3 linked regions of the Homo sapiens genome follow. The protein of the gene in region 2 binds, or shares a complex with, the protein of the main gene of each other region. Each region holds a gene or a part of one and is shown on either strand. Other genes may lie near its edges. A codon is read from its position in the direction of its gene.

The links.
Region 1: the proteins of VEGFA (region 2) and NRP2 are in contact, whole or in part, in a crystal structure (PDB 5DN2), measured with the Homo sapiens proteins. Residues at the interface, in NP_003367.4 of Homo sapiens: Lys392 (codon at 4,340), Pro393 (codon at 4,343), Arg394 (codon at 4,346), Arg395 (codon at 4,349); in NP_957718.1 of Homo sapiens: Tyr299, Ser300, Asp301, Trp304, Thr319, Asp323, Ser349, Glu351, Thr352, Asn354, Tyr356, Gly417, Ile418.
Region 3: the proteins of VEGFA (region 2) and KDR are in contact, whole or in part, in a crystal structure (PDB 3V2A), measured with the Homo sapiens proteins. Residues at the interface, in NP_003367.4 of Homo sapiens: Pro246, Asp247, Ile249, Glu250, Ile252, Lys254, Met287, Ile289, Pro291, His292, Gln295, Ile297; in NP_002244.1 of Homo sapiens: His133, Val135, Tyr137, Ile215, Val216, Val217, Val218, Val219, Gly220, Tyr221, Asn253, Gly255, Ile256, Asp257, Phe258, Val273, Asn274, Arg275, Asp276, Phe288, Ser311, Gly312, Leu313.

Annotation. Positions count from the first base shown.
Region 1 is NC_000002.12:205,677,571-205,685,514, reverse strand, and holds the start of NRP2 (neuropilin-2 isoform 2 precursor), read right to left. Parts: upstream 3,015-7,944; 5' UTR 2,225-3,014; coding exon 2,152-2,224; intron 1-2,151.
Region 2 is NC_000006.12:43,780,209-43,787,003, forward strand, and holds the end of VEGFA (vascular endothelial growth factor A, long form), read left to right. Parts: intron 1-523; coding exon 524-595; coding exon of another isoform or gene 596-646; intron 647-1,747; coding exon 1,748-1,879; intron 1,880-4,332; coding exon 4,333-4,354; coding exon of another isoform or gene 4,355-4,420; 3' UTR 4,421-6,279; downstream 6,280-6,795.
Region 3 is NC_000004.12:55,122,582-55,129,998, forward strand, and holds the start of KDR (vascular endothelial growth factor receptor 2 precursor), read right to left. Parts: upstream 3,015-7,417; 5' UTR 2,713-3,014; coding exon 2,646-2,712; intron 1-2,645. UniProt on the Homo sapiens protein: Tyrosine-protein kinase that acts as a cell-surface receptor for VEGFA, VEGFC and VEGFD. Plays an essential role in the regulation of angiogenesis, vascular development, vascular permeability, and embryonic hematopoiesis.

The DNA of each region.
Region 1 (7,944 bases), on a different chromosome or scaffold from region 2:
CCCATCTTGCTCCTTCCCAGAATTGGTTCTCGTCGCCGGCGGCGGCGGCTGAACCAGGCCCCCTTCCCGGCCGGCGCACACCGGGTGAGTCAGAGGTATGTGGCTTGGCCTCGCCCTGGCCACCCGCTGCCGGCTCCCAGGGTGCCAGTGCTTTGCTCCGCCTGAAAGCCTGAGCAGCTCACGGCTTGAGATCGCATTTTGGGGAGCTGGAGGTCCCTGGCAGGTCCCAGCTTCGAATCCCACCCTGAGATCCCACCCCGGGTCCGAGGTTGCCCCGAACTCCGCGCCTCTGGGCTTCTCTGGAAGTGACGCAGCACTGCTGGGGATTGGGATGGGAGGGGGTTCTGCAGAGAGCGCGGCAGGCAGGTGGCAGAGCGGGAGTGGGTCCAAGCGGGTGTCGCGCACACACGTACACACACTCCAAGCAGCGCTCGGGGACAGATGTGCGAACATCTGGGGTAGGAGATGGCCCCTGAGTCTTCACGACCCCTCCCGCTCCGCACAGCACACGGAACCTGAAGTTGCATGTGTGTGCGCGCCAGTGTGAGTGCCAGTGTGTGCGCGCTCGCGCGCTGGGGCCTACTGGAGTCCGTGTCTGAATACATAATATACTGTGGGCATCCTCACGGCGCGCGCGCGTGTGCACACACACACAGCGAATCACACAAACATACATAATTTACGCAGCATCCAGGTCTGTGAGTGGTAATTTAATTCCGCTTCAAGCTGGGAATTTAGAAATAAGGCAAGGGGGAACGGCGGAGGCCCAGAAAATCTCCCCAAGTGGGACCCCCACCCATCCCTTTGGCAGGATTTGCAGCTGCCCTGAAGACCACTTATGGCAAAGAAAGAGCTGCAAACGTGCGGATCTGGGTGGCAAAGGCATTCCTGAATTTTCTTCCCCCCTCAAATAAATGCCCAAGCTTAAAGTGGTGTGTGTGCTGGTGGGGGGCGTGAGGAGAAGGAAGGGTGACAGTACCAGATGCAAGGCTAGGATCCACTAGCTGATGTTCTGGGGATGCCAAGGAGGCTGCAGAGTTAGCTCTACCACTGCCGCCATCGCCTTGCAAGTGCCTTGGGTGAGGGCACTTCAGGAAGGCTTTTTCGCCTTTCTTTCACCCATTTCCTCCATAGATGGTTTCTCCATCTCCAATCACCTGTAGCAGCTGCTAAGAGTTTTGTTGTTAGATTCCAGACACTGTTCTCAGAGGGGTAGGGAGGCTCACTCTAGAGAGTGGTCCGAGAAGGAAGCACAAACCCCACTGCATTCCCCATGGATTCCCCTTTCCAGAGCATACCCCTTGCCGCTCCCCACAAATGCGGTCCCCAGACTGTTCTGGGCCTCGAAATGCTTATCTCCACAGCAGCCTGTCCACACACCCTTTTTGGCAGTGGTTGAGAACAAATTCCACTCAAAAGTTTCTAACCACTTCACAAGAGTGAGAGACCTTCGAGGGCCTGCAATTTGTTTTAGCTAATAATAATTTCTAAAAGAACGTACGATTTACTTTCCCAGACAACACATGGATGAAGAGAGAAGAGACCAACCGTCTTGGTTGCCAGCAGCACCCAACCCCAAGCCCCTATCTCAGCCACAAGCCAACTTGCTCCACCAGCCTGAGCCTTATGATTCTGAAGCATAACCAGTCATTCTCCAAAGAATCTACAGCATCTGAAAACCAAAACTAAACTCTTGTCTTTCCCAAGCCCTTCAGTTAACATTGCTCAATGTAGCTAAGTGGAGGGAATGCAAATGATTTATATTTCACTGGCTAGTTGGAGAAACTCAAGGGAGATGTGTTCTGCTTCAAGACAGGGAAAAAAAATTCCCAAAAACTGTAATGCAAAGGCTTTGTAGTATTTTTAAACCTTTGATTCAGTCCATATGTGACATATGAACACCGCCAAATTCTGTTTCAAAACACACTCACACACACACACACACACACACACACACACTCCTAGCAGGAGAGGAAAGTTGGGTTTTAGCAGCCGTGGTGGTGTAGGAAGGGCCGGCTGGGATCTCTCTTTAAATTATTGAGTACTGAGGGAGCCTTCTTCTGTGCCGTTCTGCGTGGCCTTCCTGCTTTAGCGGTCACTTTTAAAGGGGAAACCATGTTGCAATAAATAGAAAAACTTTCAGTGGCTTACCTGGTTGGCCTCTCACTTGGTGTCTTGAAAAGTAGAGGGCTAAGAAAACCCAGGTGAGAGGAAACATATCCATTTTGGAGAAGGTGGCTCTTTCCAGAGCTGGGTTCGTAGGTTTCTTGTTTAAATCTTTGTGTTTTTCTCTCTTTTATTTTCCTCCTTACAACGTCTTATGCAGAGGTTTCTAATGGTCAGCGTTTCCCTCCTGAGTCCTGGTGGCTTGTCTTCACCTCTATTCTTGCTGGAATTTCCACCTCACCAGGAGGAGAGTAGCTCCTGAAATCAGCAAAGAGGGAACAAGCCGGGAAGAGAACACGGTTTTCCTCTTAAAAACAAAACGCATATATGTTCTCTCCAGTTCCTCAAAGTGTCATTTCCTTTATCCTACAAATATCACGAGTATTTCCCGAAAGCCAAGCGTAACAATAATGATAATAATAATAATTAAAACCAAGACTTGCCTTGGGCATCACACGGCCCCCAGGCAGCTGTGTGATCTCAGAGGCGTAAACTGACACACATCCCGCGGCACCCTTGACGGACACACGGGCGGAGGCAGCCGCCGCCGGACAGCCCGAGTGGAAGGCGGCCGCCCTGCTCTTGTCCTCGCCGGGTTCCCCCGGCGGGAGCCTCCCCCAACGGCTACACCCGCTTGGCCAGCCTCTCGAGGGGAGTCTGAGGAAGGAAGCTGCTGCTGCTGTTGCTGCTGCTGGTGCGGCGGCGGTGGCGGCTGGGATCGCCTGGGAGTGAGCGAGCCCCTCTCCGAGTTCGCTGGCGCCCGCCCTCACCTCCACCTCGCCGAGTGTCTGTGCGGCTGAGGATGTGCTGGGGGCCGGCTGCAGGCTGGTGCCTCGCTCGCGATCTCTGCCTCCCCTCCGGCTCCCCACTGCCTTTTCAGGCCGAGCAGCATGTGGATGTCAGAGCCGCGGCAGAGCTATCCGATTACGCGCCGGCTCAGGGCCCGCCCCTTCTGTGTTCCTGATTAAAGAGGCAGCCGCGGAGACGCGCGGCGCAGAGCAGAGTGCCGCGGCACCCAGCTCGGGCGGGGCGGCGACGGCTTCTCTCGGGCCGCCGCAGGATCGAAGTTAAGGCGGCGCCCATCCCACCACCCCTCGCCCGCCCCGCATCTCCCGATCGCCCCCGCGCACCTCCGCGCCGGGCCGCCGGTGCGTAACGCCCTGGGGAAGAAGCGCCCCCGGGCACCCCCAGGGCGCGCCGCCTTGGCCGTGTCGCCCCCACCCAAGGGAGACCCCGGGGGGACGGGGGGAAAAGCCTTGTTCCCCCTAAATTCCACGACTCCGATGCCACACACGCAGAACCCAACACAATGCCACGCGCGATGGCGTTACAAGAGGAGTTGGGTGGCGTACGGTGTTTGGGGTAGCGAGCCGGTCGGCAGCTCAGCCATGCGTTCGAACAGGCAGCGGTGCGTGGCGGCGACACACACCGTCAGCCCGGTCTGAATAAAACCCCAAACACTCGCTGCGTTTACTACTCAGATCCTTTGTTATGTCCCAAACATGCTCTGCTCCTCTCTGGGTTAGGATTTCGTTACCCCTGCGCCTTTAACTGTAACTACCCTAAAAAGAGGAAAGACTTTCTTCAGCAAATAATTTCTTCAGGTAATTAAATTGGATTCCATCAAGTTCCCCCGAAAAAGTATAGGTGCTTGAAGGCGTCTCATCCAAATGCTACTGTAACTACGTCTATTCACATTTTCCCCCATGGAAACGTGGTCACAAAGCCTAGAGAAAGAAAACATCATTATGCCAACTATTTTTAAATGGAGGCGTGAAAACTGTTTAGAGGGAACTGCAAGCTAACAGTTGGGGAAACACTTGTATCTTTGTTTCTGAGGATGGCTTTGTGGATTCCAAACTGTCTTGCTTCACCAGACACCTATTACTACATTATCATAAAGACTGCAACAGAAACAGCCTAAATTACACCCTGCACATGTACACCTTTTCTGCCACAAAAGAGGTATATGAAAAATAAGAAAATTCAGAAAAATATTTACAGATTAAGATTTTTTTTAAATTAAGAAAGTAAAATTTTCTGTAGATTAAGAAAAATACAGTTTCGGTGACGAGAAACACACACCTGACTACCCATTTTCTTCTTGGCTTGTACTTGTGGATTCTTCTGGGTGGTTTCCCTCCTTATCTGGACTTGCCCATTAGCTTTATCACTTTTAGTGTTTGAAAAATCTGTAACTCCCACTTAACTGTTATTTACACTGAGATAACCAAAACAAAATTGAATCAGAAGTGATTTGCAAATAGTTGAGCCAAGCTGTGTTGGGGGGTGGCGCGGGATTTTAGAGTGGAAATCCACAGGCTGAGTATCACACTGTTAATCTCAGATGCCTGGTTGGGAAAGGCACAGCACAGAGGCCTCTGAGTTCTTCCAGGGAGCATGTCTCTTGGCTAGCCTAAATGCTACCTTTCATTCCCTCTTTGCCTCCCTCCTTCCTCTTCCTCCCTCCTTTCCTTCCTTCTTCCTTCCTTTCTAGGCTTGAGAGCACATCCACATTATTAAAAACTCCAGATTTACATTTCTCCTCTTTAAAGCTCAATTGTAAAGAATGACTCCAAGCCTTAAATATTTAACAAAGTAAAAGAGCAGTTTGGATTATTAACCTTAAGCAGAGATCCCGGTTTATGTCATTGCCAAGATGCTAATCTAAGGACAAAGAACGCTATCTGTAGTGACAGTCCCTGAATAGAGAGGGCCATTTAATATCACCTCTCCCCACCACTCACCAGGCATGCCAAACCATTTTTGCCAGTGCCCAATGTGGGAGACTCCTGTTTGTGAGAATAATGTAGCCAGGGTTTAGGTGAAGGGCACTGTGAAAGGGGGAAAGAAGAGAGAAAAGGTAAACCTAAGCCCACTGGAGAACCATAAGAATGACAACCCTGGACTTCTGGTCTTGGGGTCTCAGGGATGAAGGTCCCCATCAGGCTGCTTCCAGAGTAGAGAAAAGTAAGAATCAGTTTTGTTCCTGGCCTGGTTGCCTACACTGTAACTTTTCATTTTTCAGCGGTGTCCTACAGGGGACGCTCACTTACTTCCTGGGAGTCCTCTGTACCAGGGCTGCAAGACTTCCCACTCCCCTTGAGTGAAGGCCTCATTTCCTGCAGTTGGACAGAGAGTGAGTCTCAGGTTTCCATCCCTGGGGACTCAAGCGGCCAGACCATTTTTCAATCCTCTAGGGGGCAGCACTCAATAAATAATGGTAACACCACCCAGGGTCACACTTCTGGTGGTGCTTTTAATTCCAAGGAGTTCAAAGTGCTTTATCAGACCAGGGAAGATTCAGAGTGAGGCCGATCTCTCCCCAGCCTACTCTGAACAAGACCCCACCGGCCCAGAGAGGGCTTAGAATTGTTTTAACCTAAGACTTCCAAGGACTCTTGGGAACTAAACACAAATCTCACATGTGCCACATGGAAAACAAATCTTTAGGGAAATTCTTCACACTGGGACTGGCTCAGACCTGCCAGTCTTGTTTCCCTCTAGACTGGGATCTCAGGGTTTGACTGCAGTTGGTCTGGTTTCCACCAGAGGTATAGTGGTAAAGAGCTAGGTAGGCACCGTGCTTTTCAGTATTTTGTGAGTCCACATCCCTGGCCCATAGGGAAGCCTGCCTACCTAAAGGCCAGTGTCAAAAATCGGGTTTGTGATCAAAAACACTGAGCTGACTAGATAACAGCTAATTAGCGAAGCTGAGATTCCTGGCCACATCACTGACTCACCTAGGATGTTTCATGTCATTATCCTTAGTTGTAAAATAATACTAGATAATCCACTCCACATTCCATTCCTTTGACGGGAAGGGATGTGGGGGAACATGAAACAGGTTGGTAAATGATGCTAAGAGAAAGCTGTTACCAAGCCACACCCCTGTGGAAAGTTAAGTGTTCCCAGCTAGACAGTCCCAAACCTTAGGGTATATCAGCATCACCTGGAGGAAGTGTTAAAAATTCTGATTCCTGGGAACCATTTTCCTGCAGGTGAAATTCCTTGGGTCTGGAGTGGTCTTTGGGAATCTGTATTTTTAACACACATCTTAGGTGATTCTGATGCAAAGCCTCCACAGACCAGTAGTTGGGAACTTCTGATCTGATGTGTTCTATTTACACACAGCCTTCCATAAATGCTCTTCCGTTGAAGGAAACCTGGACAAGCATTCCTTCACATTTCCTCTCTGGGTACTTTTCAATATGGGGCAGATGTTTCAGGTTTCTTGGAAAAACCACCAAGAACAAGTTCTCGAAAATGCTGCAGTGGTGGAATTCCCAGATTTACCTGTGACCTTTAGCAGCAACTGCAGAGAGCCAATTTGAAAACACCAAAAGCCTCGCCTCATGCAGGCAGGAGCTTTGCAGGGACATGTTCAAAGTAGCGGCTGATGGGTTTATGAGCTGGAGCCAGACCTTTCATCACCAGCCCACTCAACCATTGGTGGTTACTAGAGGTTCGTTTCAGGTATGCTTTTCCATCTGTGTTCATCCCACTGTACTTACGAAATGTTCATGGATGCATGACTATGCCAGAGGTATGCGAGCAAGACAGAGATTTAGGTCTTGCCTCTCGGGAACACAGGATCTAAAAGCTCCAGAAGTTTCATGCTTCCACAATAGATATCACGTGTCACATGGTGCTTCCCCTTATCGGAGCCCTAACATCAATAAGCTCTCACCCTGAAAAGGAAAGATCTAAGGCATAATTGCATCTTAATCTGTAATTTAACACACTGCCCTAGTTAAGGTTTAGCTACATCTGTCTCAGAAGCAAAGCTTCAGTTAAAATGGAATAGGTCCTAATTTATTATTCTCTCTTTTGTTTGATGTCAAAGTCCAGGTTTCTGGTCACTAAGGGTTTTTTTTTTTTTCTTACTCGCCTTTTAAACAATCAACTTTTTTTTTTTCCAGCACACTTGAATATTGCCCAGTAGTTTCTATTTGACATTTCTATTCTAAATTGATATTTCTAGTATATTCTATTTGGTGGGTTTCTGGAATCCTTACAGATTTCCATAAAGTATTGAAATCTCCTTCACTCCATACTGGGTGTATATCTCATTTCTTCCTCAGACACAAACACTGGATCTGGTAGGAGGGGCCCTTATGAAACAAAATTTAAAAAGCAGCAGCAAAATGTGCAAAATTCATTCAGACCTCCCTGGAATCCTTGGAAAAAGAACCTAAAGAAGCCCTATTGCTTCTTCCAGTCTGCCTGGCTTTAGCATGAGTCTGATCTTCCTATGCTACATTAATTTTTCTACCTTTGAGGCAATAAGCGTATCAAAAAGACCCAGTCAACCCTCTCCCTTAAAACAGCACTCTCCATTAAATCTTCTGCAAGGACGGTGGTCTCTGTGCTGTTCACATGGCTACTGCGCACTGGAAATGTGGCTAGTGTGAGTGAGTCACTGAACTGTAGGTTGTATTTAATTTTATTCATTTAAATGTAAATTGCCGCATGTGCTTACCAGCTACCATGTTGGACAACTCAGCCTCAGAATCAAAAGACCAGAGCTGAATAATTCCCATAGAAACCCATAGAAATTCACACCCTTATCAATCTCTGTGGTTACCATACTTGTTTGCCAAGAAAGGAACCCCAGTATCAGCAGAAGTTCTGATTACCAAGGCAGCATTTGAAAATGCTCACTGTCTGTTTGGTTAAGGAAGAGAAGAGCTAGCTTATATTCATATTATTGTCTATCATCCCATGTTCTTTCTACGCTCTCTTGGATGACTTTCCCAGAGCACTCACCAGGAGTCA
Region 2 (6,795 bases):
TCGCAGTTGCAAATGAAGGCACAAGGCCTGATACACAGCCCTCCCTCCCACTCCTGCTCCCCATCCAGGCAGGTCTCTGACCTTCTCCCCAAAGTCTGGCCTACCTTTTATCACCCCCGGACCTTCAGGGTCAGACTTGGACAGGGCTGCTGGGCAAAGAGCCTTCCCTCAGGCTTTGCCCCCTGCCGGGGACTGGGAGCCACTGTGAGTGTGGAGACCTTTGGGTCCTGTGCCCTCCACCCAGTCTCGGCTTCCCACCAAAGCCTTGTCAGGGGCTGGGTTTGCCATCCCATGGTGGGCAGCGTGAGGAGAAGAAAGAGCCATCGAGTGCTTGCTGCCCAGACACGCCTGTGTGCGCCCGCGCATGCCTCCCCAGAGACCACCTGCCTCCTGACACTTCCTCCGGGAAGCGGCCCTGTGTGGCTTTGCTTTGGTCGTTCCCCCATCCCTGCCCACCTTACCACTTCTTTTACTCCCCCCACCGCCCCCGCTCTCTCTCTGTCTCTGTTTTTTTATTTTCCAGAAAATCAGTTCGAGGAAAGGGAAAGGGGCAAAAACGAAAGCGCAAGAAATCCCGGTATAAGTCCTGGAGCGTGTACGTTGGTGCCCGCTGCTGTCTAATGCCCTGGAGCCTCCCTGGCCCCCAGTACAACCTCCGCCTGCCATTCCCTGTAACCCTGCCTCCCTCCCCTGGTCCTTCCCTGGCTCTCATCCTCCTGGCCCGTGTCTCTCTCTCACTCTCTCACTCCACTAATTGGCACCAACGGGTAGATTTGGTGGTGGCATTGCTGGTCCAGGGTTGGGGTGAATGGGGGTGCCGACTTGGCCTGGAGGATTAAGGGAGGGGACCCTGGCTTGGCTGGGCACCGATTTTCTCTCACCCACTGGGCACTGGTGGCGGGCCCATGTTGGCACAGGTGCCTGCTCACCCAACTGGTTTCCATTGCTCTAGGCTTCTGCACTCGTCTGGAAGCTGAGGGTGGTGGGGAGGGCAGACATGGCCCAAGAAGGGCTGTGAATGACTGGAGGCAGCTTGCTGAATGACTCCTTGGCTGAAGGAGGAGCTTGGGTGGGATCAGACACCATGTGGCGGCCTCCCTTCATCTGGTGGAAGTGCCCTGGCTCCTCACGGAGGTGGGGCCTCTGGAGGGGAGCCCCCTATTCCGGCCCAACCCATGGCACCCACAGAGGCCTCCTTGCAGGGCAGCCTCTTCCTCTGGGTCGGAGGCTGTGGTGGGCCCTGCCCTGGGCCCTCTGGCCACCAGCGGCCTGGCCTGGGGACACCGCCTCCGGGCTTAGCCTCCCATCACACCCTACTTTAGCCCACCTTGGTGGAAGGGCCTGGACATGAGCCTTGCACGGGGAGAAGGTGGCCCCTGATTGCCATCCCCAGCAGGTGAAGAGTCAAGGCGTGCTCCGATGGGGGCAACAGCAGTTGGGTCCCTGTGGCCTGAGACTCACCCTTGTCTCCCAGAGACACAGCATTGCCCCTTATGGCAGCCTCTCCCTGCACTCTCTGCCCGTCTGTGCCCGCCTCTTCCTGCGGCAGGTGTCCTAGCCAGTGCTGCCTCTTTCCGCCGCTCTCTCTGTCTTTTGCTGTAGCGCTCGGATCCTTCCAGGGCCTGGGGGCTGACCGGCTGGGTGGGGGTGCAGCTGCGGACATGTTAGGGGGTGTTGCATGGTGATTTTTTTTCTCTCTCTCTGCTGATGCTCTAGCTTAGATGTCTTTCCTTTTGCCTTTTTGCAGTCCCTGTGGGCCTTGCTCAGAGCGGAGAAAGCATTTGTTTGTACAAGATCCGCAGACGTGTAAATGTTCCTGCAAAAACACAGACTCGCGTTGCAAGGCGAGGCAGCTTGAGTTAAACGAACGTACTTGCAGGTTGGTTCCCAGAGGGCAAGCAAGTCAGAGAGGGGCATCACACAGAGATGGGGAGAGAGAGAGAGAAAGAGAGTGAGCGAGCGAGCGAGCGGGAGAGCGCCTGAGAGGGGCCAGCTGCTTGCTCAGTTTCTAGCTGCCTGCCTGGTGACTGCTGCCTTCTCTGCTTTTAAGGCCCCTGTGGTGGGCTGCAGGCACTGGTCCAGCCTGGCGGGGCCTGTTCCGAGGTTGCCCTGGTTGCCTGAGTGGTAGGCTGGTGTGGCTTAGTGTAGTGGTGTGGACGCAAGCTGTGTGTTGTGTCCTGTGGTCCTTCTGCTCATAGTGGCTGTTGGTCCTGATGTTATTACTACCTCTGGTAGTAATGCTGAGAAGCTGAAAGCCGATTCCAGGTGTGGACAATGTCAACAAAGCACAGATGCTCTCGCTGGGGCCTTGCCTCGGCCCTTTGAAGTCTGCATGGCTGGGCTTCTCACTCACTCAGTGTTTCTTGCTGGGGGAAGGAATTGAGTCTCCCACTTCAGACTGGGCCTCCCTGAGGAAAGGGTTGTGTCTCCCCACTCAGACTGAGGTTCCCTGAGGGTAGGGCTGTGTCTCTCCCCTCCGACCTGGGCTCCCTGATAGGGCTGTCTCCCCGCTCAGACTGAGGCTCCCTCAGGCCAGGGCTATGTCTCCCTCCTCAGACTGGGGCTCTGAGGGCAAGGGGTCTGGCTGTTCGTTTAGGATGGGGCACTTTTGCCTACACACTGAAGGAGCTGTAGCATCCAAGAATACTAGATACCTTTAATCCTCCACCAGTCATGGTGACAACCCCAAGCAGCCCACACATTTTCAAGTGCCCCCAGGATGCGTGGAGGGAGGGGTCTGTGCCCATTCTCCTGACATTAGCCTGTGAGCTCCGTAAGCCCGGGCCTCGTTTACGTACCTTTGTGAGCCCCGGGCATCTGTACCTCTTTCCTTTGCCCATACTGGGGACCAAGGAAGTGTCAAGTGCATGAGTGAATGTGTGACTCAGTTCAGAGGGTGAGGTCAGGAGCACAGGGTCGGGACAGGTGGCTGGCATCTTTTAATGCCTTAGCTTATGTTCTTTATACCAACTTGGCCTGTGCTCAGAGTGAGGGAGGCCCTGGGGGTCAGGGTAAGCGTCAGTCAGGGAGGCAAGACTTTGTGGGGATTTCCTAGACAGGGCCAAGGCACCCCCAGCTCACCCCGAGGCTGTGTTAGGGAAGTCCTTGGAGTGTCTCCCCTCCCCCAGCAATGTTCTTGTGGCTTGTGTGTGCTCAGGGGATGCTGGGAACCAGGCCTGGGTAGTTGGTGTGGGGTGCTGTCTGTCTTGGCCCTATGTGAAACCAAGAGGGCGTATATTAGTGCTGGGGTGGGGGCTCTGCCTAACTTCAGGGCTGGATGAGGGGAGTCTCAGTTCCCCAGGGGTCCTTGGGAAAGATAAGGGACTTGACATTTTAGGGTTTTTAGGTGATTATTCTGCTGATGGGGGTTTGTGTGAAGTGACCTGGGAGCTAACTGAAGTTACTCTAACCTCCCAATACCTTTACCCAACCCCCAAGCTGGCTGTATCTGGGAATATCAGTTTCCAAAATTGGAGGCTTAGGACTCCGTTTCGGGGCTCCCCAGAAGGGTAGGGCCTGTTCTGCCTCCTTCTCACAATCACCCAGGGGCAGGGGCATGCTGAGAAAGTTCTTGGAGGCCCCCTTTGCTTCAGCTGGAGTAGTGAAGCCGCCGAATTGTCTCTCCCCATCCTAAGTGAAGCAGCATATTTGAAAGGAAAGACAACCTGTTACCTGGGCCTGCAACCTCCAGGCAGCTCAAGAGAGATGAGGCCTACAGCCACAGTGGGAGGGGACATGGGGAATGGAGATGGTCCCTCACCTTCCTGGGGCCTCCTGCTCTACGCTACCCCCTCGGGAGCCTCCTGTCCCCAGGGCAGGCCCTTGCCATTGTTGGTCACCCGGCCAAGCCTCTCTGCCTCAGGCGTTCTCCCAGAAGATCTGCCCACTCTCTTCCCCACACCAGCCCCTAGAGACTGAACTGAAAACCCTCCTCAGCAGGGAGCCTCTTCTGATTAACTTCATCCAGCTCTGGTCACCCATCAGCTCTTAAAATGTCAAGTGGGGACTGTTCTTTGGTATCCGTTCATTTGTTGCTTTGTAAAGTGTTCCCATGTCCTTGTCTTGTCTCAAGTAGATTGCAAGCTCAGGAGGGTAGACTGGGAGCCCCTGAGTGGAGCTGCTGCTCAGGCCGGGGCTCCCTGAGGGCAGGGCTGGGGCTGTTCTCATACTGGGGCTTTCTGCCCCAGGACCACACCTTCCTGTCCTCTCTGCTCTTATGGTGCCGGAGGCTGCAGTGACCCAGGGGCCCCCAGGAATGGGGAGGCCGCCTGCCTCATCGCCAGGCCTCCTCACTTGGCCCTAACCCCAGCCTTTGTTTTCCATTTCCCTCAGATGTGACAAGCCGAGGCGGTGAGCCGGGCAGGAGGAAGGAGCCTCCCTCAGGGTTTCGGGAACCAGATCTCTCACCAGGAAAGACTGATACAGAACGATCGATACAGAAACCACGCTGCCGCCACCACACCATCACCATCGACAGAACAGTCCTTAATCCAGAAACCTGAAATGAAGGAAGAGGAGACTCTGCGCAGAGCACTTTGGGTCCGGAGGGCGAGACTCCGGCGGAAGCATTCCCGGGCGGGTGACCCAGCACGGTCCCTCTTGGAATTGGATTCGCCATTTTATTTTTCTTGCTGCTAAATCACCGAGCCCGGAAGATTAGAGAGTTTTATTTCTGGGATTCCTGTAGACACACCCACCCACATACATACATTTATATATATATATATTATATATATATAAAAATAAATATCTCTATTTTATATATATAAAATATATATATTCTTTTTTTAAATTAACAGTGCTAATGTTATTGGTGTCTTCACTGGATGTATTTGACTGCTGTGGACTTGAGTTGGGAGGGGAATGTTCCCACTCAGATCCTGACAGGGAAGAGGAGGAGATGAGAGACTCTGGCATGATCTTTTTTTTGTCCCACTTGGTGGGGCCAGGGTCCTCTCCCCTGCCCAGGAATGTGCAAGGCCAGGGCATGGGGGCAAATATGACCCAGTTTTGGGAACACCGACAAACCCAGCCCTGGCGCTGAGCCTCTCTACCCCAGGTCAGACGGACAGAAAGACAGATCACAGGTACAGGGATGAGGACACCGGCTCTGACCAGGAGTTTGGGGAGCTTCAGGACATTGCTGTGCTTTGGGGATTCCCTCCACATGCTGCACGCGCATCTCGCCCCCAGGGGCACTGCCTGGAAGATTCAGGAGCCTGGGCGGCCTTCGCTTACTCTCACCTGCTTCTGAGTTGCCCAGGAGACCACTGGCAGATGTCCCGGCGAAGAGAAGAGACACATTGTTGGAAGAAGCAGCCCATGACAGCTCCCCTTCCTGGGACTCGCCCTCATCCTCTTCCTGCTCCCCTTCCTGGGGTGCAGCCTAAAAGGACCTATGTCCTCACACCATTGAAACCACTAGTTCTGTCCCCCCAGGAGACCTGGTTGTGTGTGTGTGAGTGGTTGACCTTCCTCCATCCCCTGGTCCTTCCCTTCCCTTCCCGAGGCACAGAGAGACAGGGCAGGATCCACGTGCCCATTGTGGAGGCAGAGAAAAGAGAAAGTGTTTTATATACGGTACTTATTTAATATCCCTTTTTAATTAGAAATTAAAACAGTTAATTTAATTAAAGAGTAGGGTTTTTTTTCAGTATTCTTGGTTAATATTTAATTTCAACTATTTATGAGATGTATCTTTTGCTCTCTCTTGCTCTCTTATTTGTACCGGTTTTTGTATATAAAATTCATGTTTCCAATCTCTCTCTCCCTGATCGGTGACAGTCACTAGCTTATCTTGAACAGATATTTAATTTTGCTAACACTCAGCTCTGCCCTCCCCGATCCCCTGGCTCCCCAGCACACATTCCTTTGAAATAAGGTTTCAATATACATCTACATACTATATATATATTTGGCAACTTGTATTTGTGTGTATATATATATATATATGTTTATGTATATATGTGATTCTGATAAAATAGACATTGCTATTCTGTTTTTTATATGTAAAAACAAAACAAGAAAAAATAGAGAATTCTACATACTAAATCTCTCTCCTTTTTTAATTTTAATATTTGTTATCATTTATTTATTGGTGCTACTGTTTATCCGTAATAATTGTGGGGAAAAGATATTAACATCACGTCTTTGTCTCTAGTGCAGTTTTTCGAGATATTCCGTAGTACATATTTATTTTTAAACAACGACAAAGAAATACAGATATATCTTAAAAAAAAAAAAGCATTTTGTATTAAAGAATTTAATTCTGATCTCAAAGCTCCTCTTGGTTTCTCCTTCTCCATTGAATCCTTGCTCTAGACTTCCTCCCGCCCCCTTTCCCTCTTCCTCTGGGGAACATGGCATTTGTCTTGGGTCTGGGAAAGGTACGTCTAATGTGTAGGATATGGGGTGACCCACCTTGTTGTGCTGGGGGCAAAGTCCTTCCATTTTGGCTGAGCTGGTCCTGGGGGAACCCATCCATCCTGTCTTGATATAGAAGGTGGGAAGCTCTGGGAATGGGTGGAGGGGGAGAAACAGCTTAGGAGCCAAGGGCCCTTGCAATTGGTAGTGCTGCCTTCAGGAATTAGATGATCCAGGCCCCTGTCCCTTAGCCAGGGAAAGAACTGGCCATGTCTCCAAGCTTGCTGCCCAGGAGACAGGAGAGAGCTGTTTTTGTCTGTGGGGGTCTTGTTGGCTGCAACAGGCTGGGAGTGGGAGGGGGATGCTGCTGGAGGGCTGTGACTCCAGGGTGTAACTTAATTTTACATAGTTTTACACCCTGGAGTTCCTTGA
Region 3 (7,417 bases), on a different chromosome or scaffold from region 2:
AAGTGACTGCACATGTTCTCACACACCACACAGATGTGCAAAATAAGTTACTGACATAACTGGTCAATATCATGGTTTTTAAGTCAATAATATGGTTTTTAAAAAACTGGAAACTAAGTTATATCAATATATCTCAGAAATTAACTGGCATTGGTACTGACTTATGTTTAGAACAGTTTTGTTCTTAAGACTTTAGACTCTGTCAGAATATCCCTGGGTCTACAAATCTGCATTTTAACAAGCATTTCAAATTATCCTACCACAGATGGTCTATGGGCCACTCTTGGACAGTTGCTGGTCTGGGTGGTCATGTTTAATTAATTTGCACAGTACTTTGTGCGTGGAACGGGGGTTACATTTATGTTTTAAATAGAGAATGGGGTCTCGCTATGTTGCCCAGGCACTTCTTGAACTCCTGGACTCAAGCGATCCTCCTGCCTCTGCTTCCCTAAGTGCTGGGATTACAGGAATGAGCCACTGCACCCAGCCTGCACAGTACTTTTTAATATGAAAGAAATAACTGCCCCCAAAACAGGCAAACAAAAAACCAAAATGTTTAAAAGCAAAATGAAACCTGGAGTCCCACTTTGTCTAAGAAAAGGAAAATGAAAACAATTCATTTGGATAACACAGATTTCAAACTTGACTGGGGAACACTAGGTTGAGAAAGATGCTGAAAACATGATGTACAATTCACACTGCCATCCAAATGAGAAAAAAACCATTATTTGGGCACATTCTTGTGAGAAAACAAATGGCAGTAAAAATGATTCTCAATAAACTGTGCCCACTCGGCTACCAAAATCAGAAACTCTTGAAGGTCTCTCATAATTTATTGCCACAGATCACATTCTAGACACACTTTCCTGTGTAACAAATATTTTAAAAAAGAAAAGGTATGTCCTTCATTCATAGGAAGCTGAGACTATGCCATACTATTCTAGAGACACGTTTACAACAAAAATCTATTCAACAAGGCTCTCAATAACTTCAAATTCATATTTGTAGACCAACATAGTTTTTTGTTTTTTGTTTTTGCTCCATTAAATGTCATTCGTTTTCATTGGCAAGCTTGAGCTGGACTCTTCAGAAAGTTCTAAAGAAATAACTGTAAGAGGTACACATGCTACTACTCAATAAAAAGCCCTTCTATGTTCAAATCCCATAACCAATATTAATTAATTTGTGCACTGTTACCCTTCCAGCTCAAAGACGGGAAGGAAAAACAACAGTGCCTCTGTCTCTAGAATTTGATGGCACCAATTACAGCCCAATCCAATTAAGCAAGTAATGCACTCCAAAAGGGCAAGTTCACCATTATATTCAGGGCGACCGGCCTGCCGTTACTACTACGCTAGGAAACACCCCAGGCTTAAAAGCAACTCACTTCTTTGTGGAATACAGAGCAACCACATGTTCCAGACCTTCATTCTCTGCCCAGAAAGGGGGAGAGAGAGGGCTTGTCTGGGACAAATGAGTGTCCATGGTGGACTGGACCCGTTGAACCAAGTCATTATAAAGAAAATTCAGTAACCATGGACAGATGATCCTGGTACTGTATGTGGGTGTGAGTGTCTTCTAAGACATGTGATTCTTGTCTTAGGGAGTAAGAAATTTTTTTCCCTGAATTATTCGACTTTTTTTTTTTCTTTCTCTGACCCTTTCCCCTTTCTCACCCTGCAAAGGGTGGAAATCTGGATATCAGCAAACTGGCTGCAGGAAAGAAATATTATCTAAGGGGTTGAGAGAGAAAGGAAAGTGAGGAAGAAAAGACAGACAGCTATTGCATGAAGAACGTGTGTGTTCCTAATTGAAGGAGACGGAAATTTTAGGCGGCAGGGAGAGGAAGGAATGGCACTAAAGCTAGGTACCAAGGCCCACAGGAAAGGTTTTCGGAGCTTGAACTTCTGACTATGCGCTTACACCAAGGACCACAGCGCTTTGAAAGATGTGCAATGCTTTACGCAGGACAGTTGGCTGTTACTTGGAGACCCTTGGGGAAGCTGTCAAAGCCCCCAGGACAAGTCCCTATTCCCCCCCTTCTTCGCTCTGCAAGGAGAGCGGCGTCCTGCACCAAGGAAGGAAAAAAAGTTTCTCTCCGCTCCAGACCCCACTTCACACAGTGGTGTGCAAGTGTGTTCGAGCATGAAGACAACAACGGGCCGGGTCCCGCAAAGAGGCAGAACCGAGTGTACCGTCCGATCCGGGAGACCCGGCCTGAGATTCCGGCAAGGTTTTCTTCCCCGGGCCCGGACTAGGATGTTGCGCGCAGCCAGACAACTTTTCACCGCCTGTTCTCGCCTGCGGAGGCACCTCCTGCCTGCCAACCCCAGGCGCCTTCCCACCCCAGCCTCCCAAGAGCCTGAGGGTGTGTCGGCATCTCAGGACATGCTCCAGCCGAGGTCCCTGTCGCAAACCAGAGTCCTAGAAAAGGAACTGGGCTAGAGCACAGGCGACCACAGACTCGCTGGGTAATCTTGGGCCAGTCTCTGAGCCTCAGTTTCCCCACTGGTAAATGAAAGATCGCAAAATGTCAAGTCCTGTCCAACTCTCCAGCTCTACGATTCCGAGTTAGATCTGGCTTTCAGGTCCTCTCCGCCCTCACCCGACCTGTCTGCCTTCCTCCTCCAGAGTGGGCTCCTTACCCACAGAGGCGGCCCGGGTCTCCACGCAGAGCCACAGGGCGACGGCCAGCAGCACCTTGCTCTGCATCCTGCACCTCGAGCCGGGCGAAATGCCCAGAACTCGGGAGCCGGTTCTTTCTCCCAGCGCCTGTCTAGAGAAGGAGGCGCGGAGGTGGAACTCGCGGCACCCCGCAGCGCAGGACAGTTGAGCGCACAGGGCTAGGGAGCCCGGGCGCCGACCGCGGCTGCAGGGGCGTCTGCGGGTGCCGGTAGGAGAGGATATCCAGGCTGCCAGACGGACTTTCTGCGGCGCGCAAGTGATGCCCGGCGCAGGCAGAGGAAACGCAGCGACCACACATTGACCGCTCTCCCGGGGTCCCGGGACTCAGTGCAGGGTGGGAGCTGGTGCCGAAACTCTAGAGCGCGGAGGCGGGGCCATGCGGGGCGGGGCCGGAGCGGAGGAGGGGCTCTCCCGTGCGGCCAGCCCCGCCCCTCACCCGGGTACCCGGCGGCGATCTCCAGCTCCCCAAGCCCATTTACATCTCCCCATTTCCCCACACAACTGGACTGCGCTGGGCCCCAAGTCGCCCAGGAGAGAACATCCCAGAGCAACAACTTTGTTTCTGGTGTAAATAAAAAGTACTCGGTAACGGGCGCTGAGCAACTCCAAGATTTAATCGCTTGCCGGTCCCCGAAATTTGGGGAGCATCACCAGGAGCGCTGCGAAGAGCAGCGCTCCCTCACCAGGCGCGTCAAAGTGCAGGACCCTCTTCGCCATCGCGCGCGTCTGAAGTGGCCGAGAATCTGCAGCAGTTTGGAGCCACAAGGGAGAAGCGGATACTCAGCCAAGTATGCCGGGTCGCAAGCTGGCAGCGACTCCTGCCAGTAGTTTTGGTTTTTGTATAAGGGTATTTTGTTTGGCCAGTATAATTGTAGTTTAAAAAGCTGAATCTGGTTGCTCTTAATCAGAAAACGCACTTGCCCAGTTCGCCAACATTCCCGCTATTTCCCAAAATATTTGGCGGCTCCAAGTTTGAAGTGACCTGCCTAGCCCCAAGAAGGCTTTTGTCCATCGTGCTCCCCAACGAAGAGCCCTAGTGAAAGTTTGGCCATGCCCCTTTTCAGAGCAGAGCTTCCAGCCAAGATATCCTTAGTCCCAGGGGAAGGAGGCCAGCTGCCAGCGTGCTTCAGTGGAGGAGCAATGAAGCAAAAGCACCTAGGACACTCTGTGACCAAATTGCACAACTGTCTCCACGTGTGTGGACTTCTTGTGGCAGCTGTTTGGAGGGGAACTCCAATTCCTTCCTGACCACATTCGTTCCTTCTGGTTTTCTGTCCATATCTCCCCACACCTGGGGAGTGACATCAAATGTCCCCTAACTTCATTAAATATGAATCTTCCAGATGCCTATGTCTTTTACCTCCCAGAGGTGCTTTTTAATGACAACCTAAAGGACCATTCTTCACCAAGATAAACACACAGAATTATTATATCTACACCTAATTCAAACTAGATTGATTGTATACAATTAATGTAACCTGTTACTTATCTTCATCTGTTTTTAAATATTTACTGTATTCACGCTTTTACTTTTCCAAGTTGACAGGTGAAATATTTTAATGCTGAAATATAATGAATGTATATGGCAAAAAAAAATTTTGGAAAAACACAAAAAGGCTTAGAGTGAAAAGACTTTTCTTTTGGCAGAGGCATTTTTATGTTTCCTTTTTTTTCCAAGCAGATTCTTAAACACAAGTATGTAGACATGTCACCCTTCTCTTCCCACAATTGCTTGGTATAAATGCTATTTGAGCCTTGGCTTTTTTCCCTTTAAATTTGATTTATTTATTTGAGACAAGGTCTCACTATGTTGCCCAGGCTGGTCTCCAATGCCTGGACTCAGTCCATCCTCCTGCCTCAGTCTCCCAAAGTGCTGGGATTACAAGCACGAGCCACCCTGCCCAGCCTTCACTTTATAATATACACTGGAGATTCGTTCTACATCAACCTTTAAAGCTCCATCTTTTATTTATTTATTTATTTATTTATTTATTTATTTATTTTTATATAGAGGCAGGGTCTCACTATGTTGCCTAAGCTGGCTGCGAACAAAGCTCCATCCTTCCATCTTTTCAATGTTGGCATAGTGCTCTACTATATAGATGTACTCATATTTATCTGGGAGGTATTTATTTGGGGAGGGGAGAGAATCTTTAAAGAAACTCCTCTCTTCCTGCTAGTAAACTCAGCAAATAAAATAGGATGGACTCTGGCAAAGTTGGATAAAGGGGTGGGAGATGGAACCTGGTTTGGAGAGGGCAGTTTTTCTCCATCCCCATCACCAAACAATTCCCTATCAGCCTTATTTACAGTTCATGACACTTCCTCTTCCATGTCTCATTTAAGAAGATAGTGTCTCCTCTGAATGCAAACCAGAACCTGCAGGCCCGTGGTAATAGCCCCCTTTAGAAGTCTTGGAGGAAATGATGCGTCTTTGATGGCCGCAAGACCAGAATTTGGCAGAGTCTCAATGAAATCAGTCTACCACATTCCCTCCCACACAGCACTTAGAAGTGCCTTAGGTTCACAAAAAAAATGGCAAAGTCTGTTAAAAAAAAAAAAGATAGAAAAGAAAGAAAGAAAGGCTGTTCCATGTGCAGCACCCTCTCGTTATCTGGCATTGCAAAGGAGTGACTTTTGTGAGTTAACCCAACAGTAAGGCACCTAGCAAAGTGCCCCAAATGTGTTGAGTGTTCCATAGATGCTATTCAGATGCCACAGCAGAGTAGTAGCTAAGTGCACAGACTCTGGATTTTATTCCCAGATCTACCGCTTATGATCTGTGTGATCTTTACCAACTTACAAGTAACTTATCTATGAAACACAAAAAAAATTATAATAGTACCTTCTTCATAGGGTTCTTACAAGAATTAAAGGAGTTACTGCATGTAAGGCACTTGGAGTAGGCCCCAACACAGCTAGTAAAGATCTTGGACATAGAAAGCACCAGATACACATTAAGAAACATTCTGCAAAGGTTGCTTATACTACAATGCATGGGCTTCTTCATGCTGCTGAGATCTAAACTGCTAAGCAGGCTCATTCATTCAACAGTTTTTGAGCACCTACTATATGCTAGGCATTGAACCAGGAACTGGGGTTACGATGGTGAAAATAATGTCAAGATGAGCTTAAATGAGGAATCATTGTAATAGCCTCACCCAAGACAAATTTAATTTAATCTTTAAGCACTTCTTGTCTCCAGCTACTTTTCTGGGCTTGTACATACAGAATATACATTGTTCATACTCAAAGCACACTGCATAAATTACTCTCCATGATCTCCAAATTTGGTTACATTACCAACAGTATTTTGGACTCCATGTCTTAACAAGTTATATGAAGATTTGTCAAAGGTTAATAACTGTGGAAGTTCAATTGCTTCAAAGAGAATAAAATACCCAGGAATCCAACTTACAGGGGATGTGAAGGACCTCTTCAAGAAGAACTACAAACCATTGCTCAATGAAATAAAAGAGGACACAAACAAATGGAAGAACATTCCATGTTCATGGATAGGAAGAATCAATATCGTGAAAATGGCCATACTGCCCAAGGTAATTTGTAGATTCAATACCATCCCCATCAAGCTACCAATGACTTTCTTCACAGAATTGGAAAAAACTACTTTAAAGTTCATATGGAACCAAAAAAGAGCCTGAATTGCCAAGACAAATCTAAGCCAAAAGAACAAAGCTGGAGGCATCATGCTACCTGACTTCAAACTATACTACAAGGCTACAGTAACCAAAACAGCATGGTACTGGTACCAAAACAGAGATATAGACCAATGGAACAGAACAGAACCCTCAGAAATAATACCACACATCTACAACCATCTGATCTTCAACAAACCTGACAGAAACAAGCAATGGGGAAAGGATTCCCTATTTAATAAATGGTGCTGGGAAAACTGGCTAGCCATATGTAGAAAGCTGAAACTGGATCCCTTCCTTACACCTTATACAAAAATTAATTCAAGATGGATTAAAGACTTAAATGTCAGACCTAAAACCATAAAAACCCTAGAAGAAAACCTAGGCAATACCATTCAGGACATAGGCATGGGCAAGGACTTCATGACTAAAACACCAAAAGCAATGGCAACAAAAGCCAAAATTGACAAATGGGATCTCATTAAACTAAAGAGCTTCTGCACAGCAAAAGAAACTACCATCAGAGTGAACAGACAACCTACAGAATGGGAGAAAATTTTTGCAATCTACTCATCTGACAAAGGGCTAATATCCAGAATCTGCAAAGAACTCAAACAAATTTACAAGAAAAAAACAAACAATCGCATCAAAAAGTGGGCAAAGGACATGAACAGACACTTCTCAAAAGAAGACATTTATGCAGCCAACAGACACATGAGAAAATGCTCATCATCACTGGTCATCAGAGAAATGCAAATCAAAACCACAATGAGATAGCATCTCACACCAGTTAGAATGGCAATCATTAAAAAGTCAGGAAACAACAGGTGCTAGAGAGCATGTGGAGAAATAGGAACACTTTCACACTGTTGGTGGGACTGTAAACTAGTTCAACCATTGTGGAAGACAGTGTGGCAATTCCTCAGGGATCTAAACTAGAAATACCATTTGACCCAGCCATCCCATTACTGGGTATATACCCAAAGGATTATAAATCATGCTGCTATAAAGACACATGCACATGTATGTTTATTGCGGCACTATTCACAATAGCAAAGACTTGGAACCAACCCAAA